2 separate regions of the Homo sapiens genome follow, and region 2 is linked to region 1. Evidence: fine-mapped expression QTL. A gene starts in region 1. The other region holds a variant in brackets. All regions are shown on one strand. Distances are between the middles of the regions. Region 1 holds the start of DCLRE1A (DNA cross-link repair 1A). Region 2 has its middle 15 kb from the start of PLEKHS1.

What was found. PIP is the estimated chance that this variant, and not a neighbour inherited with it, causes the effect. A credible set is the group of variants that fine-mapping cannot tell apart.
Region 2: its variant is the best candidate, but not a certain one, in a credible set for the expression of DCLRE1A in lung (TOPMed, PIP 0.70).

Annotation. Positions count from the first base shown.
Region 1 is chr10:113,852,181-113,856,572 of GRCh38, reverse strand. It overlaps DCLRE1A (DNA cross-link repair 1A), which reads left to right and starts at 2,491. Exons shown (of 9, transcript NM_014881.5): 1 at 2,491-3,850. The coding sequence starts at 3,391. It overlaps NHLRC2 (NHL repeat containing 2), which reads right to left and starts at 1,912. Exons shown (of 11, transcript NM_198514.4): 1 at 1,523-1,912. The coding sequence starts at 1,700. RefSeq lists an enhancer at 728-1,432 and a silencer at 1,443-1,802.
Region 2 is chr10:113,734,559-113,738,950 of GRCh38, reverse strand. No RefSeq gene overlaps it. Among named protein-coding and RNA genes, the nearest start is that of PLEKHS1, 15 kb to the left of the region's middle. The variant A/G (reference allele first, on the strand shown) is at 1,844.

The DNA of each region.
Region 1 (4,392 bases):
CAGTGTACTTACTATATAACTACCTTCTGCACCAAAACTTTTTAAAATCATATATTTGTATAGATGTAAACAATCTTTTAAAGTTTGATGGGATAAGCATTCATGTACCCAATTCTTTTGTAAGAATTCCACAATATTTCAAATCCAGTATAAGATTAATAGCAGGAAAAATAAGCACTTCTCAAGGTGAGTAGTGCAAAAGACTTGGAAAGACACCAATACTCTGTTGTCGGAGGCAGGTTCCGATATACCTCCCATGAGATAACTGAATTCTGCCACATCCAACCAATTAACTATACATGTGGTTTCAGTGTCACGCCAGGACACATGCCAGCACCATCAGGCAAAGCAATGCTACTCCCATCCAAAGAAGGTAAAATACGTTTTCATTTATCATGGCAAGATATGCTTCACAAACATCCCTGCCGGGAATATCTGTTCCTTCATGCTCCAAAAGCTCACATGGCCAGGATTTAAACCCTGGAAATAGGCTATAATTGATTCCGATTTTTAAAAGTATTAGTTTCACGACTTTGAACGGAGAAGCACAGTACAGCTAAGAAACCAGCAAATCCAGGGCCTGTATAATCCAACTGGGGCAGTTATCAGCTGTGAGGCCCTGGGCATGTGACTTAACCTCTCTGTGCTTCCATTTCCTCAACTGTGAAAGGGGAATGATAGGAGCACCTCACTGGGATATAGAGGTAATTGAATAAGGTAATATCTCCTCAAGTGTTTAGGTATCCCCTCAAGTGTTTAGGACTGTGTGTGGCAGGCCGGGCGCGGTGGCTCACGCCTGTAATCCCAGCACTTTGGGAAACGGAGGCGGGAGGATCACTTGAAATCAGGAGGTCGAGACCAGCCTGGCCAACATAGTGAAACGCCGTCTCTACTAAAAATACAAACAAAACAAAACAAAACAAAACAAAACAAAACAACTAGCCAGGCGTGGTGGCGCGGGCCTGTAGTCCCAGCTACTCCGGAGGCTGAGGCAGGTGAATCGCCTGAACCTGGGAGGCGGAGGTTGCAGTGAGCCAAGATCACGCCACTGTACTCCAGCCTGGGAGACAGAGCGAGACTCCGTATCAAAAAAAAACAAAAAAAAACCCTGTGTGTGATACATGAAAAAGTGATCAATAAATGTCAAGATGATGCAGAAAGATGACCAGAAGACACTGGGGAACCAGATTGAATGGACAGAATGGTGTGGACGTTGCAATCATTGCCACCGGGGACACTAAATATTCACGGAGTGTCCACTTGGCTAATATCAGGCGCGGGCGGAACTCAGGATACACAGACGAGTATGTGGATCCCCGTGCCAGGGAAACCCCCGTCGGTGGCCGCTTGGGGACCCCTGGGAATTGCAGAACACGCGAACAGCGGCCCAAGTTAGGCGAAGGGCCACTCCCCGGGGCGCCAGCGGCACAAACCCGCCTAGCCCACCGCTTCGCGGGAGGGCGCCGTCCCCGAGGAAGGGGAGGTGCCGGGAGGGGCCCCCACCCCGACGCCAGCCCCTCACCTTCCGGAAACTCGGGTACTGACAAGTCCTGCTCCCAGCCGTCCACCTTCTGCAGATACTGGTAGACCAGGCTGTCCTTCTCCTGCTGGGTAACGGCGTCGAGCAGGGCGTACTCTAGCGAGGTCTGCGCGGGGAGCAGGCCGGAGAGGCTGCGGCCCCGGCCTCCGGGCGCCGCCATGTTTCCGCCGGGCTCCCGATGCGGCCGCCGGGCCCGCGGGAGAGTCTCGCTGGGAGAGACGAAACGTTCACTGTCCTGTGGTTTCCAAACGGCGCATTCACCTCACCCTCCACTAGCCCCACTCCACGCCAATGACACTTTTTTCTTTTTAAAGCATAGGTCCAAGTGCCAAAAGTCCAAATCGGCGCAGTTCCCGGGGACGTAATTAAACTGCCGTCCGACCCACCCCGCCCCTTTTCGGTCCCCACGCCGCAGCCGAGCCTGGACATTGAGAGCGTCAGATTCAACATGGAATAAGGCCTTAGGGACAGCGTCCCAGAGGCGCTAAGGGAAACATCCCCAACCCTCCACATTGGGAATTAGCGGACTTTCGAACACAAATAAAATACAATAAATCCGTAGGACTTAAAAGGGCAATGTATTTTTAAAAATTATTTTTAAAGTCTCTCTCTTTGAACAGCATCCGCCGATTCGACACGGCACTGGCAGCGGGAACTTGTTCCCGCCAAGACCCTAAAGGTAAAGCGGGTAGGGATAACCTCCAGAGAGAAGGCTTTGTAAACTGGAAGTGACTGGCGCGAGTGGCTTTCACTTATACACAAACACAGCGTTTTGTCATCTGGGAGTGCTGAAAGTGCGGGCGCGAACACATTTTTAGATGGGGGTGCCGGGAGGAGCGGATGCAGCTGGAGCGGCTCCCTTGGGGTGCCGAGTGGCAGGTGGGGGGCGGTGAGGGTCCTTGAGGGCGGGCCTTAGAGTCTTCAGAAGGGCAGGACTCTGAGGGCTTTTTGGAGCTCGCTATGCTTAACCTGGAGATGATTAAGGCCCCGCTTCCTGGCCTCCCAGCCTCTAATGCCAAAAGATAAGGGAGAGGCTGGCGTGTGACCCCGTTTTGAGTCAGGTGGACAGAGGGCTGGCCACCTTCGGAACCATGGGTGCAATACGGAGTCAGACCTCAATACAAGCCCACTCTTTCACATATTTGAACTTTTTTCACATATCAACTTTTTTTGTTCACTGTGCAGGGATTGTTCATTGCTGCTGGAGGAAGATCATGGACTGTCGCGGGAAACTGAAGTGGTTGAGTATCCACTAGTCGTGGATGAGGGCAGTGACTTCGCAGTTTTTTGCGAATTACACATCTCTTTGATTATGTTGTGACTAGTTTTGTTAGATAGTCATTTAGTGTTTGGGATACCTGTTAAGCCCTTTGTCCAGGGACTGTGGTTGGATTTATGAATTATTTGGACGGTTGTCCACTTGAAAGAACTGACAGTAGCTTCATAACAATGTTACAAATCTCGTTCTAAGATTAAGCTGTTGAACCTATATTTGCCATTAGCGCTTAATTTTTGAAGTATTATTTTTATGAATCAAGCCCTGGAAAAGGACAAGATATTTGAATGAAATAGCACCCATAATGGAGAACTTCACAGTTGCTACTCCTGTGATAGGTTTATCTTAGTTTCATTGTGGTATAAATGGAATAGCAGGTGTTGTCAGGTACAAGGTTTGTAGCTTGCCAATATGTTCATTACCAACACTGCAGATTCCCATTGAGTTGGTGGGGGTTTTGTTACCTTTGTTTTTTTTCTCAGCAAAATAATTCTATAACTTTTTGTTTGTGACAAGAAATGGACTTTCAGTTTACTTAAGATTAATACTTCTTGAATGATAAAATCATTTTGCCATGTTAGAAGACATTTCCGAAGAAGACATTTGGGAATACAAATCTAAAAGAAAACCAAAACGAGTTGATCCAAATAATGGCTCTAAAAATATTCTAAAATCTGTTGAAAAAGCAACAGATGGAAAATACCAGTCAAAACGGAGTAGAAACAGAAAAAGAGCCGCAGAAGCTAAAGAGGTGAAGGACCATGAAGTGCCCCTTGGAAATGCAGGTTGTCAGACTTCTGTTGCTTCTAGTCAGAATTCAAGTTGTGGAGATGGTATTCAGCAGACCCAAGACAAGGAAACTACTCCAGGAAAACTCTGTAGAACTCAAAAAAGCCAACACGTGTCCCCAAAGATACGTCCAGTTTATGATGGATACTGTCCAAATTGCCAGATGCCTTTTTCCTCATTGATAGGGCAGACACCTCGATGGCATGTTTTTGAATGTTTGGATTCTCCACCACGCTCTGAAACAGGTAAGACTGCAGAAAACGTAGTAGTTTCTAAATAATCTAAAAAGTCTTCATTAGGTCAGACATACCAATTCAGTGAAACAAGGAAGGCAAGCAGTAACCTAAAAGAGAGATGAGACACTGGGAAACACCATACCAGTCAACGGTATAATTGTAAAGCAAATGGCAGACTAGAAAACAGTTTAAATACATTGTGTTATTTCATAAAAGTTCCTAAGTATCTGGATTATTTTCCATAAATGTTAACTGAATCCTTACTATGCTGGGTACTTTCACACTGTCTACTTACCCAACTTTCACAATCACCATATAAGGTAGCTAGTATTGACATTTTATAGATGAAAGTTCTTAAAAGTCAGATAACTTGTCCAATTGGTTATTTATTTTTTTGAGACGGAGTCTCTCTCTGTTGCCCAGATTGGAGTGCAGTGGCGCTATCTTGGCTCACTGCAAGCTCCGCTTCCTAGGTTCATGCCATTCTCCTGCCTCAGCTTCCCGAGTAGCCGGGACTACAGGCGCCCGCCACCGCACCCGGCTAATTTTTT
Region 2 (4,392 bases), 120 kb after region 1:
TCCTCTTCCCCCTCTTATAACCAGTCTCATAAAGGGTGTAGATATCCCTTAGGACTCTCCTTATACTCTAAAGTTTCTAAACTGTTCAACTCACCCTTTTGGGACTATTCTACCACTGGTGATAAGATTGGCTGCAAATGGGAATCTCCTGGAAAGGTTTAACAACACTGCTTCCCGGGTGCCAGCCTGAGAGATCCTGATTTAGTTGGTCTGGGGTGCTGCCTGGGCATTGAGATTGGAAACCTCTCCAGGTGACTCTAAGGTGTTGCTAGTGTTGACAGTCATCACATCTAGTCCCTCTCATTAGAGTCTTTAGAACTCCTCTTAAGAATCAACTCCACTAGTTGGACATGGTGACTCATGCCTGTAATCTCAGCACTTTGGGAGGCCAAGGCAGGTGGATCGCCTGAGGTCAGGAGTTCGAGACCAGCCTGACCAACATGGTGAAATCCCGTCTCTACTAAAACTACAAAAATTAGCCGGGCATGGTGGCCCATGCCTGTAATCCCAGCTACTCGGGAGGCTGAGGCAGGAGAATCGTTTGAATCCGGAAGGTGGAGGTTGCAGTGAGCCAAAATCACTCCATTGCACTCCAGCCTGGGCTACAGAGCTGGGCTACTTTATCTAAAACAAAAACAAAAACAAAAACAAAACAAAACAAAACAAAAAAACAAAAACTAAACTCCATAGACTCCTTGAAATTTTCCATACTTCCTAAATTCACAAAGACTTGCCTTTTGCTTGATGACTCAGTTTTCATAAGAACACCCACCAAAGGAAATGTCTCCTTACTTGATTTTAGATTTTTTTGGGAGTTTGCAAAGCCATTTTTGTGTGTTATTTCCCTGGCTCCTCCCAACATCACTGTGAGGTGGGCATTCAGGGTTAAGATGAGGCAATGGAGCTAGAGCAATGGTCTACAGAGTTAGGCTAGGGCTGCCAAACTTAGGAAAACAAAGAAATACAACAAAAAATAACCCTAGCCAGGCATGGTGGTGCACGCCTGTAATCTCAGCTAGTTGGGCAGGCTGAGGCAGGAGAATCGTTTGAACCCGGGAGGTGGAGGTTGCAGTGAGCCGAGATTGTGCCACAGCGCTTCAGCCTGGGCAGCAGAGCTAGACTGCCTCAAAACAAAAAACAACAAAAAACCCACCCACACCGGACACCCATTTAAATTGAAATTTTAGATAACAAATAAGTTTTTAGTATATTTTGTGCAATATTTTGGGATATATATATTAAAAAATGGTTGTTCTAGCTGAAATTCCAATTTAACTGGGCATCTTCTATTTCATATGGCAACTCTACATATGAAATGTGTCCTCTTCTAAAGCTCAGGCCAGCGTCTTATGCCCTTCTCTTTCCTGCCTATGATCTCCAGCAGCTTGACTACATCCGCTTTTGGAAGACGTTCTTCCTCTCCACTGCATGGGTAGCCGTTATCCTCAGAAAGAACCTCTTCTGTATGTCAGCATCATTTGCATGTCCTTTTTTCTTTTCTTCATCCTAATCTCCTTTCTGTGGCCTCAATTATTGATAAGATCAAGCTGGTTTAAAAAACACAACCCAACATTTACTTGACTTTTGCTTGATGTCTTAGTTTTCATAACAACATCCAACAAAGGAAATGTCTCCTTATTTGATTTTAGATTTTTGGGGAGTTTTGCAAAGCCATTTCTGTGTGTTATTTCCCTGGCTCCACCTAACATCCCTGTGAGGTGGGCACAAGACCTGTGGAGGTAGGTATTATTTCCTAGGTACTCACATAGGACTAATTCTATTTGAGGATGAAAGAAGAAAGGTTTGGAGAGATTAAGAGACTCCTCAAGGTCATATAGCTTGG[A/G]AGTGCCGAAGTTGGGATTTGAACCTGGGGCTATCTGACACCAGGGCCTTTTTTTTCTTAATTAGCATGCTAGGAAAACAAGAAGATGGTATTGAGGACCTTGTGGCTTAGCCATTCAAGTTTTCCAGACTTGCTCAATTTGGCTTTCTGCAACTCCTGGGGTTTGGAACAATCATTGGATAAACCTTTTCCATTCCATGTGGGTGGCTAGAGAGATAAAAAGTGTTGACAATATAGCAACCCATAAGATGCATGCATATTCTTGGAAACCTTATTTTTAACCCTGAAAAAAAAAGTGTCACCACAAGGCTCTTGAAGAAAGATTTCAGCAGTCATTGCCAGCAAAGTCAACACTAAGTCAACCCAGGGACTTGCTCTTTAAACACATTTGCTGAGGCTAAGGGGCAAATAGTTTATACGATTCTGGGTAGCTGGCCACAAATATGTGTCAAAGAGGCTTTTTTCCAAGTGTTCAGTATCTTTTTTGGTATAAGCTTCTCCTGTGCTTTAGCCCTCTGTAAATATTTGTGCAATTAATGTATGCTGGCAAATGTCTCAAGAGGAAAGCAGGCTACATTATGCCAAGCAAAATTGTAATTAGTAACACAAAAGAAAAAGAATTTGTCTCTTTCATCTCAGTGCTTAAAAACTGTCAGCACTTAAGGCAGCTGGAAGCTTCAGAAAAGATAATTTGCAAAAGCTGATTTTCCTAAGCGGTTGAGAATGGGTCCTATATCCTAATATATTTTTAAAAACCACATTCACTTGAGAATTCTGTGTTCCCTTCCCTACTTAACATTAATCTAGTTAATTACAAAAGGTGCTGTAGAGAAAAGTTCCTTTAAAAATGTCAACCTCAAAATGTTGTTAAGGGGAGCATTTTGCATTGTGGCACCTATGAGGCACTGGAGGAGAGGGAATACATGAGTGGCCCATCTTGTCTAGAAATGATTGCCTAAGTGATGCAATCGAGAGGAAGAGAAAGACGTGTGCCTGCTGACACCAGCTGGAGAAGTCAGTGCACCTGGACCCATTCAGTGAAAGCTGTCTGCTGATCCACCCCTCCCTCACACTTCACAGTCTTCCTCAAACCTGCCTGGCCAACAAGGGCTTGGCATTCCTGTGCAGCCTCTGGAAGTTTCTGGACAAGAATGCTCCAGTACTGAACTCATTTATGCCCTGAATCCTTTGCTATTCAATCTGGGGATAGGATGGCTAGCCAGGTCTTTGAACAGCCAATGCGCTGCTGGCCCCTGGGTGATCTTTTCCAGCTGTTTAATTTGGGCTTTGCTGCCACTCCTGCAGATCTGCAAGGGAGTCTTTTGGTATCAGAATAATCCATGTTGTCTGAGGACCACCTGCCTCAGAATATCTAGGCAGGTTGGTTAAACATGCAGATTCCTGGTCTCCACCCTAGACCTATTGATTTGCAATGAGGATGCAGTGGGACATAGTGATTTCCTTCCTAAACCGATCTTCCAGGAATTCTCAGGCCATCTTCTACCTGCTAACCTTAATTTCCTCTCCACCACCTTCCCTTCAGCCTTTTTTGGAGGCTGGAATGGAAGATGATGAAAACAGTTCCTTTGGAACCTCTCTTGGAATCCCCAGGCAGGATGCACCCCCTCTGTATTCCTGGGTAATGTACACATGACTGTGTTACAGCCACTAAGCCCTAGAGTGATTTGTTCACCTCCTTTGGTATAAGCATCCTTTCTTGGTCATCTTTCTAGCCCCATCCCTAATATGACATCTGGCATCTAGTAGGACTCTGAATGTTTGCTAAATAAAGCAGTCGCTGATCTAATCCCTTCACTTCTGGGAGACCTCAGGTTGAAAGCATAGACTGAAAAGCATGACTAAGGAAGAGACCTGGAGGCAGAAAGAGCAAGTGAGGCATCCAGGGGGGCATCTTCCGTTCTTGCCCCTCCATGAGCCTCATGTCATCGTCATCATCATCATTCATCACCATCATCTTTGATATCTACTACTTGTCGATTACTTTGTAACTGAGCAGCTTAGTTTCAAACTGTTTTAAGAACTTTTTTCCTTTCCTTTTCCACCTTATGCTCCCATGCCTATGCACAGTTATTTACCTAGATTCTTGTTAAGCTCACACCATGCCCACTTATCTGGTCATGTATTTCCTTAGAAGCTTCAGGGGCCGAATCCTGACATGGACGAGGCATCTCTGGAACTCTCCCCCTAGCGGGAGATGACTTCAAGGACGGAGTTCACTCCCAGCGAGACATTAACTGCACAATTGACTGCAATTAATTTGTAAGCTGGTTGGGCCCAAGATGGTGCTGGCCCCTTCGCCAGTTGGAGCAATAATTTAAGATAAGCCATCGGAGTGAAACATGCCACCTGGCACCTCCGAGCCCCTCCCCCTCCCTGTATTCCAAGCCTCTATTCTTAAACCATTGCCCACTCTCCAGAAACTGAAAAGGTGGCAATTTTCAGAAAGGATTCTGACCTTTTCCCCTTGTTGGCATTGGATAATAAAATTCACTCTCCTTTGATCACACCTTGTTCTTGTTATTTTGGCT